2 linked regions of the Homo sapiens genome follow. The protein of the gene in region 2 purifies or fractionates together with the protein of the main gene of each other region. This does not show direct contact. Each region holds a gene or a part of one and is shown on either strand. Other genes may lie near its edges.

Region 1 (5,604 bases), on a different chromosome or scaffold from region 2:
CTCCAGAGCTTGTTGGTCTCAGGGCTGGAGTCCTGGCTTCACCATTTGCTAACTGTGTGATGATGGACAAGTTACTTACCCTCTCTAGGCCTCAGTTTTCTCATATCTAAGATGGGGATAAGAATAGCACCTAGCTCTTGAGGTTGTTTTGAAAGTTAAATGTGGTAATCTACATAAACTGCTTAGCATGGCATCTGGCACACAGTCAGATCTCTGTAAAGGTTAGATATTATTATTAACCACTATTCCAGTTAACTACTCCTCAGAAAGTGGTGTTCAGTAACAAGGGACATTTTCTAGGGTCAGCCTAAATTGCGACCTAGGCCATTGGAACTATTGGCCATGAAAGCACAATTATGTATTGTAATAGGCAATAGAATATGTGGCTCTGACATTAGACTAACATCCATCCCTTCAATATAGGGACCTTAGGCAAATTAACCTCTTTCTTACTCAGTTTCTTCTTTTAAAAAATAAGCATGATAATAGCAGCCACTTCATAATATTGTGATGAGGTGCAAATGAGTTAATGCATGTAAAGTGTTTAAGCTATTAACTCAACAAATATTACCCATTACTGAAAACATCAGAGTGTGCCACCTGCTAAGTAAGTGCTTCTGGGGAGATAGAGTATTTCAAATTGGATTGTCATGAAAAATTTGGAAAATTTGAAAGCTAAAACTCTTGCTTTCATTTCCTACTGCCTCAATTCTCTGTATTCTGAATTTACTCCCTGTGTCCCCCTAAAATTGCATTTGCAAAAGCCGATCTTCAAGTTACATCCAATGCCCGCTCTGCCTCATCTTCTATGGGAAACAAGAATTTTAGAGGTCAGGTAGCCTAACACCATCAATTCTCAAAAGAGGAAGCTGAGGCCAAGAGAAGTCCTGTGAATTTCTTACAGCTCATTTGTGACAGACCAAGAATTACCCACTTTACTGGGTTGTTATTTACTAAGTGACAGTGAGTCTATATCTCTTTTGACAAGTGAGGTGGGGGCATGGAATTCGGCATGTGGTTGGTGTAAGAACTCCCCTCTCTCCTCTTTAACCTTACTTAATAAGACCCTGGCACAGTTGATATTTTAAGAGGGCTACTCTGTTTTCCCAGAGGGACCTAGGCACGGTAACCCTCTTAGCATGCAGACCTTGTTTCCTGAGGGGTAATGTTTCCCTTCCCTGTGACTTGTTTCTTGGGGGCTGTGTTCTGATTTTCCTGCTGAGCCACTTGTTGCCTTGGGCTGGCTGCCGCGCTTGGCAGTTTTTAGTGAGGGCTCTGATAGATGCCAGGAGGTGAGGGGAAGGGCTCTGGGTGGACTCCGTCATTGGACAAGCAGACTTAGTGATGGATGAGCCTTCCCCTGAGGAAGTTTTGGATCAGAAGTCCAACTGATAAGTTTTTCCAGAATTGAGTAACCCAGAAGCAGTGCCGAAAGGATCTTACCTCTCTTGTGGCTTTTTGTATTGATTTTAAAAGAAATTCTCAGAGGCAGTTCCACATTGTACTGGAAGCACAGCTATATCCACAATAGGCTTAGATATATGTAACATGAATTGCTTTAGAAATAACATTTGAGGAGAGGGGTGAGAGGAAGGAAGAGAGGGTCTTAAAAAATAGCCCTATCAAAATATTTTCTTTCTTCTAAGTATTGAAAAGACACAATATAACCCTTTCTTCTTTCAAATGATCTCATAGCTATTTGTTGAGGGGAAATACCAAATGTTTATTATTTTTTTTGAAGAAGCTTCTTCGGTCCTGATGATTCATGTTGATATCATTTTCCTCCTGACTACAGAGGCTCTGAGACAAAGCTACACCTCAAGTGATATGCCAGGGTCAGAACAATTCCCGTCCTGAAGGAGGGTGTGCAACCTTCTTTATCCCTCCTTCACAGACGTCCTTGAGCCCTTGAGACGGATGTGAGTGAGTTTTTCAGTCCTCATGCAAAACAACCATCTAAACATAACAGATGACATCAGCTTGGGCTTTTCAATTCCTGGATGGCAGCAGCGTGTTAATCCAGCCTTCATCCTGGATTTCATAAACCAAAACAAGAGAGCCTGGCAGGAGGACAGCGCTGCTGCTGGGTTGAGGAAATTGATGACGGGAAAGCATGCGGGCAACCCAGTGTATAAAACTCATAAACGTGTAGGCAGAGGCTCAGCTACCAGTTTGGACGGCTGCTTCCCACCAGCAAAGACCACGACTGGAGAGCCGAGCCGGAGGCAGCTGGGAAACATGAAGAGCGTCTTGCTGCTGACCACGCTCCTCGTGCCTGCACACCTGGTGGCCGCCTGGAGCAATAATTATGCGGTGGACTGCCCTCAACACTGTGACAGCAGTGAGTGCAAAAGCAGCCCGCGCTGCAAGAGGACAGTGCTCGACGACTGTGGCTGCTGCCGAGTGTGCGCTGCAGGGCGGGGAGAAACTTGCTACCGCACAGTCTCAGGCATGGATGGCATGAAGTGTGGCCCGGGGCTGAGGTGTCAGCCTTCTAATGGGGAGGATCCTTTTGGTGAAGAGTTTGGTATCTGCAAAGGTAAAGAGTGACCCCTTACCTCTCCCCTCCCGGGGCATGCTGAGAGCTTTTAGCCAGCTTGGGAGGTGAGGTGGCTTTGCTCCTCAAGAGTAAGAGGGAAAAGGCAGGTGGATTCTTGACAAGGCACCACACAGGTATTGTCATGGGTAGAGACTGAAGGATAGCTCCAAGTAGCAACTGAAACCAGTGTGCAGGAAGGCACAGAAAGAAGTGTGGCATTTTACTCGTTGCCTTAGGAGATCGCAAAAAGAAAGCTGCAATGGAAGATTGTGTTGGCTCCTTTTCTGGAAAACTTTAGAAACTTGACAGGTAATCTGTTAAGGATGGCTTAGGTGCTCTCTCCTCTGCGAGGCAGCGATTACAAAGGTCTGCACTAGATAACCTCTTGGAATGGTTTCTAGCCCCCAGATTTAGTGATTCTTTGATCTTGAAAGGGTCCACAGGATGGAGGGCCACTCTCAAGATCAAATATTTCTGATAAACACAAATGCACTTTATGGAATAGAGTGAGCTTAAGTCATCTAACAAAATAACTCACTCTTCAAAGAGGGTCCCCTGAAGCATAAAACAAACCTCATCTGACTTTATAAAGGTTTTGGTCATCTGGAAAAATAGCAGATGGTGTTAAGACAAGGAAAAATAACAATAGAGAAAAATAAAAACTGGAAGTCTGTAAAGAATGAGGTTGACCACTTGTACACTTAAAGAAAAACTTCGTCGGTTGAAATTTTAGCTAAATAATGTAGTTAAGCATTTGTAGAATTTATTTTAAACATAGTAACTAGTTTAAAATATTTAACATTTTAAAAATGTTTAGAATAAAAAGAATGATGATTTAAAAATACTCTACGTATAGATATCTCATGATCTTATTATGAAGAGCTATTATTAAGAAGCAACACATGCTATAACCCCATCCATCAGTTGTGTAATACCAGGAAGCTTTCAAAATTATAAAAAGGACTGAGAAATTTCTAAATAATTATTATGTTTTATGTATTTAATACATTTTTTATGAATAATATTTATCCAGTATTGTGCTAATCTCATTAATTCTCCTACTTCTTAGACATATAATGTATAAATTAATCATCTTTTAATTTGCAAGACATACAAAATTAAAAAAACAAATTCTTAAAGTATTAGGAGAGTTTTATTTTTTGCTTAGTTTATTTTTGTTTATATACAATAAGAAATAGAATATTGAGAAAATATTTTGTTTGGTGAACACATATGCATGTTTCTTTCAACTGAATAGGATCTGTATATTTTGTAAATTATGGGGCTTATTGACCAAGAAAACAGTACTTCACATAAGGAAATTAGGGAGGAAGTGGTTAACACAATCATACTTATGATATAGCATGTATATGCAGTGGATTGCTTTTTCTCTTGGCATAATATGCCTTTGTACATGTGATTGTAAATGTACATTACATATGGGCAAAGAAACAAGCTGTGTGGCATCTGGAGTCTTTAGCACTGTAGTATTCTACTGAATGATCAAGATACTAAAAAGATCTTTAAGATTGCTTCTTTTGGCTTTCTTCAGGTTGCTGATGAATCTAGTTTTAAGCATTTTTCTCTCTGCTGGAAATAGGAGACTTTGTGAGCCTTAGCAACTCGAGATAGAGATAATACATTTGGCAATCATCTCCCTTCTTCAGCTTTTTAAAAGAACATCCACGTGAAAACTGTAAACTTCAGCTGCGTATCCAAATGTCTTCTAAATATTCAGATGTCTGTGAACATCTTGCCCAGATTAACAATCAGCAGCCAACACATATTTAATGAACACTTACTATCTGCCCAGCACTGTTCAGTACATCAGGGGATACACTAGAAGTATCTCTGGGAATTTGGCTAAAGTTTTAGTTTTCAATATCGCTGCAGGCACAGTCAAATCCTAATCCTGTGTGCTTTTCTGGAACAGGCCTTTGCAGGATCCCTTTTTAAGATCTCTTCTTCCCAGCAAAGAGAACAGTGTTCAAAACCAGGTTCCTCTGTGATCTGAACCATATTGAAAAGAGCACTCATAGATCTCTTTAAAAAAAGATAGCTCATTGATGATCTACTTGGTCAGTTAGTGGAGTATTAGACTGCTAGAGACTCAGATGGCTCACAATTTGTTCTTTACCCACCTGTGATTGTACATTTACAAGGTATTTTCACAACAAGAGAATATTCTATATCTATTCTGCTGGCTTTTAAAGGTTGGTTAGTCTACTGAGATGCTGTTTATCCTAAAAACAGCATTTTAAATAATTTTATGCATTTTAAATAAACGACTTTGTCCTCTTTATTTCAATGTAGGATGTTTTGGCATAAGTGTAAGCACTGGAGGTCTAAAAGCTTCTAGTTCTTGGTAGGTGTACAAACCCTCAGGGTGTATAAGCCCTGAGCTTTCTTGCTCATTTAGCATCTTGCATGTTAGCCTTGCAGAGGATTTTACTAGGGAGCCCTCTTAACTACTGAGGGAGTCAGGCAAGTTGTATGACATGCCGTTTCGACAAATAAGGAACTTGATAAGGGTTGGAGCAGATGGAAGATTGATTGCTTCATGGTGAGCTAGGATGATAGCTCTCTCCCTGGTTAGTTTGAAGCCCTTTCCTATACACTTAAAATAGTAAATTATCTGTGAATACAGTAGATTCAAAGATAGCATCACATTTTAAAAACTCTTTGAGGAGCTGATGCATATATGTCTGTTCAATTTCCCACCTTTGCTGAGCTGTTACAGAGGTCATCTGTGAGAATTTATTGGTATCTAAGCAGAACATCACCAGAATGAAGACTGGTCCAAGGAGACTGGCTGTGTGTAGCTGTCTTCAACTTAACTTTACATCACAACACTAAGCCCGAGGCATCCATTATCTGTTCTTAATGTGTGATTTCATATTTATGACTCAAAGTTTCAACTTTCAAATCCTGGGTTTGGAGAATTGGATTTTACTTTACAGTCAAGGTTCATGAGGTTGGTTCAAATCGCAAGGCTATGCACCCAGGGCTGTTAGGATGGAGACGTATTTACAACAAGCAGCGTCCTCTCCAACCTTTCCTTTGTC
Region 2 (4,811 bases):
GTGTGATGTGTGTCCCGCCAGTCCCTGGTCTGCAGATGCCCTCGGACTGGGCGCACCTGGGTCCCATGGATTGTCTGGACCTGGCTCCAGTGTCCTCCGCCCTGTGGCTCTTGGAACAGCAGCACTCGGCCCATGTGCTGGTATCGAGGGGCTCCCGAGGCCAGCAACGAAGTCTTTTGCCGGGAGGGCAGCCAGGTCACGGTGTAACCTGAGGAAAGTGTGTGGGGTGTGGAGTTAGGAACACAGGATGCTGGAAGAACACCCAGCAGGAGAGGGGCAGGGGCCCCAGGGAATTGGGTTAGTAGCAGAGATGCATGGAAACAGCTGAAGACCTTCTCCTGAGAAAAGCATCCATGTGCTCCCAGCCAAACAAATCCTGCCATCTTGGGGATGGCATGTCTTCAACTGTGGGTGACATGCACACCCAGGGAAAAGCAGCTATGCACAACAAGTGGAGCGTGGAGCCTCTTCTGAGCCTCAGTTTACCTGAGGATTAGTAAGGAAGACTCCATTCTTTCTTCTTTTTTAGAGACAGAGTCTCGCTCTCTTGCCCAGGCTGGAATGCAATGGCGTGATCTCAGCTCACTGCAACCTCCGCCTCCCGGGTTCAAGCAATTCTCCTGCCTCAACCTCCCAAATAGCTGGGATTACAGGCGCCCAGCCACCACACCCAGATAATTTTTTGTATTTTTAGTAGAAACAGGGTTTTGCCATGTTGGCCAGGATGGTCTCAAACTCCTGGCCTCAGGTGATCCACCCACCTCAGCCTCCCAAAGTGCTGGGGTTACAGGCATAAGCCACTGTGCCCGGCCTCTTTTTTCTTAAATAATAAATTAAAATGGGAGTCCAGGTGCGGTGGCTCACGCCTGTAATCCCAGCGCTTTGGGAGGCCGAGGCAGGTGGATCACAAGGTCAGGAGATCGAGACCATCGTGGCTAACACGGTGAAACGCCGTCTCTACTAAAAATACAAAAAATTAGCTGGACGTGGTGGTAGGCGCCTGTAGTCCCAGCTACTTGGGAGGCTGAGACAGGAGAATGTGAACCTGGGAGGGGGAGCTTGAAGCGAGCTGAGATTTCGCTACTACACTCCAGCCCGGGCGACAGAGCGAGACTCCGTCTCAAAATAAATAAATAAATAAAATAAAATAAAATAAAATAAAATAAAATAAAATGGTATATATTAGTCAGAAGAATGCAAAGTTGGCATGGATATTAAAAATAAAGCATGTCTGGGCCAAGTGCAGTGGCTCACACCTGTAATCCTAACATTTTGGGAAGCCGAGGTAGGAGGATCACTTAGGCCAGAAGTTTGAGACCAGCCTGGGAAACATAGTGAGACCCCGTCTCTACAAAAAATTACAAAAACTAGCCAGGTGTGGTGATGCACACCTGTGATCCCAGGTACTAGAGAGGCTGAGAGGCAAAAGGATTGCTTGAACCCAGGAGTTCAAGGCTGCCTTGAACTACGATGGTGCCATTACACTCTAGCCTGGGTGACAGAGTGAGACCCTGTCTCTAACAAAATAAAATAAAGCAGGAAACTTGAAAAATTTTCATGCTTAAAGATATCATGTTGCCGGGCGCGGTGGCTCACGCCTGTAATCCCAGCAGTTTGGGAGACCGAGGCAGGCGGATCACGAGGTCAGGAGATCGAGACCACGGTGAAACCCCGTCTCTACTAAAAATACAAAAAATTAGCTGGGCATGGTGGCGGGCACCTGTAGTCCCAGCTACTCGAGAGGCTGAGGCAGGAGAATGGCGTGAACCCAGGAGGCGGAGCTTGCAGTGAGCTGAGATAGCGCCTCTGCACTCCAGCCTGGGTGACAGAGCAAGACTCCGTCTCAAAAAAAAAAAAGATACCATGTTGGCCGGGAGCGGTGGCACACGCCTGTAATCCCAGCACTCTGGGAGCCCAAGGCGGGTGGATCACCTGAGGTCAGGAGTTTGAGACCAGCCTGGTCAACATGGTGAAACCCCATCACTACTAAAAATACAAAAAATTAGCTGGGCGTGGTGGCGGGCACCTGTAGTCCCGGCTACTCAGGAGGCTGAGGCAAGAGAATCAGTTGAACCTGGGAGGTGGAGGTTGCAGTGAGCTAAGATCGCGCCACTTCACTCCAGCCTGGGCGACAGAGAGACTCAGTCTCAAAAAAAAAAAAAAAGAAAAAAAAGATATCATGTCAGTGTCAGGCTGTCTTCATCTTCAACTTCCTGTAATGAGGTTCTTTCCTCTAAGATACCAGGACAACCTCTATTGAATGTTCGAGGAAACACTGCAGGAAATTGGACCCAAGATTGGGCTAGAGCCAAGAGCCACCAGCAAGAATCCTCTGAGATGAGTCACTGACCCCATCTGATGGTCTCTGTGCAGAGCAGTTGAAAGTGAGTGAAGAAAACAGAGCTGTCCAAGGCCCTACAGCACATGGAAGGAAGAGTGAAGAGACGGAACCGCTTCCCTATTGTCGTATGGAGTCTGGAAGCACAAGGGTTAAGAACTCCAAATTCTTGAACTCCATGAGACAAGGTTTAAATCCTAGTGCTACTGCTTCCTAGCTGTGTAGTAGTTAAGTAAATTGCTTCATGCCTCTGTGCCTCAGTTTTCTCATCTACAAAAAGGGAAGAGGCTGGACATTGTGGCTCACGGCTATAACCTCAGCACTTTGGGAGGCTGAGGAAGGGGGATTGCTCAAAGCCAGGAGGTCAAGGCAGCAGTGAGCCAAGATGGTGCCACTGCACTCCAGCCTAGGTGACAAAGTGAGACCCTATGTCTAAAGAAAAAAAAAAGGAACAGTACCAATCTCATGGGGTGTGTTTTGAGAGTTAAATAAGACATGTATATAAAATGCTTAGTGCTACACTAGTGATAGCTAAACTGAGATCTGAAGGATAAGTAGCATAGTAGACACTCAGGATTCTGTTTATTTATCTATCCACATATATGTATATATTTATGTGTGTGTATAGTGGGGTGGGTGTCTAACTAGAGATTAAACTTTTTTTCTTTTTTCTTTTTTTTTGAGACAGAGTTTTGCTCTGTCACCCAGGCTGGACTGCAGTGGTACGATCTCGGCTCACTGCAACCTGTACCTCCAGAGTTCAAGAGATTCTCCTACCTCAGCCTCCCGAGTAGCTGGGATTACAGGTGCATGCCACCATGCCTGGCTAATTTTTTGCATTTTTATAGAGACGGACTTTCACCATGTTGGCCAAGCTGGTCTCGAACTCCTGACCTCAAATGATCTGCCAGCCTCAGCTTCCCAAAGTGCTGGGATTACAGTGTGAGCCACCACACCCAGCTAGAGATTAAATTTTAGAGTCATTTCTTCTTTTTTTTTTTTCACTGCAACCTTAACCTCCCAGGCTCAAGTGATCCTCCCATCTCAGCCTCCCAAGTAGCTGGGACCACAGGCATGCACAACCATGCCCAACTAATTTTTTTTTTTTTTTTGAGACAAAGTCTCTCTCTGTCACCCAGGCTGGAGTGCAGTAGTGCAATCTCGGCTCACTGTAACTTCCGCCTCCCAGGTTCAAGTGATTCTCCTGCCTCAGCCTCCCAAGTAGCTGGGACTACAGGTGCGTGTCACCACGTCCAGCTAATTTTTTTGTGTTTTTAGTAGAGACGGGGTTTCACCATGTTGGCCAGGCTGGTCTTGAACTCTTGACCTCAGGTGCTCTTGGACAATTCAAGAGGAGGAAGCCTTAAAAAGGAGTGGCCAGTCCTCTTACTAATAAGGCAGGTTGTTTTAAAATGTGCCTGGGATTTAATATATAGGTGTGACTGATGATACAGAGAGTCACTGTCATTGAAAGAAGTTTACTAGCCACAGTTCCAAGAGGGAGTAGGCACTGGATGCCATGCAGGGCCAGAGAGGGAAACACTACATTAGTGAAGAGGCAGGAGGAGCCAGGGAAGAGCATGGCCCAGAGCTCTTCTTGTGGTTTCCACAAGGAAGGGTGGCGAGCTAGGTTGGCAAGTTCAAGCAAGTTTAGGATTGCACAGTTTGAATAATTTTGGCTGGCTCTGGGCTATAGCGGTGGCCTCTGGTTGACTGATGCCTGGCTCTGAGCTGATTTAGGGCAGAGGAACTATCGGCTTATTGTGTAAGGATTAGACAAAGGAGGTGGCTGAGGATATGGGCTCGGAATTGGCTGGTTTGCATATAAAAGGCCTTTTTTTTTTTTTTTTTTTTAAGACGGAGTCTCGCTCTGTCATCTTGGCTGGAGTGCAGTGGCATGATCCTCAGTTCACTGCAACCTCCGCCTCCTGGGTTCAAGCGATTCTCCTGCCTCAGCCCCCTGAGTAGCTGGAATTAAAGGCACCCGCCATCATGCCCGACTAATTTTTGTATTTTTAGTAGAGATGGGGTTTTGCCATGTTGGCCAGGCTGGTCTCGAACTCCTGACCTCAGGTGATTCACCTGCCTCAGCCTCCCAAAGTGCTGGGATTACAGGTGTCAGCCACTGTGCTCGGCCCTGTTTGTTGAGACAGAGTCTTGCTCTTTTGCCCAGACTGGTGCGCAGCTGCGTGATCTCCACTCACTGCAACCTCCTCCTCTCAGGTTCAAACGTTTCTCCTGCCTCAGCCTCCAGAAGAGCTGGGACTACAGGCATGCGCCACCATGCCTGGCTAACTTTTGTATTTTTAGTAGAGACAGGGTTTCACCATGTTGGCCATGCTGGTCTTGAACTCTTGACTTCAGGTGATCCACCTGCCTCAGCCTCCCAAACTGCTGGGATTACAGGCATGAGCCACTAGGACCAGCTACAAGGCATATTCACAGGCAAGTTGTTTACTATCTCTAGGAATTT

Evidence for each region. The genes of interacting proteins can lie anywhere in the genome.
Region 1: the proteins of ITGAL (region 2) and ESM1 purify together in Homo sapiens (affinity purification with western blotting, with the first as the bait; one study listed by BioGRID). This does not show direct contact.

The regions. Positions count from the first base shown.
Region 1 is NC_000005.10:54,982,152-54,987,755, reverse strand, and holds the start of ESM1 (endothelial cell-specific molecule 1 isoform a precursor), read left to right. Parts: upstream 1-2,162; 5' UTR 2,163-2,238; coding exon 2,239-2,539; intron 2,540-5,604. UniProt on the Homo sapiens protein: Involved in angiogenesis; promotes angiogenic sprouting. May have potent implications in lung endothelial cell-leukocyte interactions.
Region 2 is NC_000016.10:30,489,609-30,494,419, reverse strand, and holds part of ITGAL (integrin alpha-L isoform a precursor), read right to left. Parts: intron 209-4,811; coding exon 57-208; intron 1-56.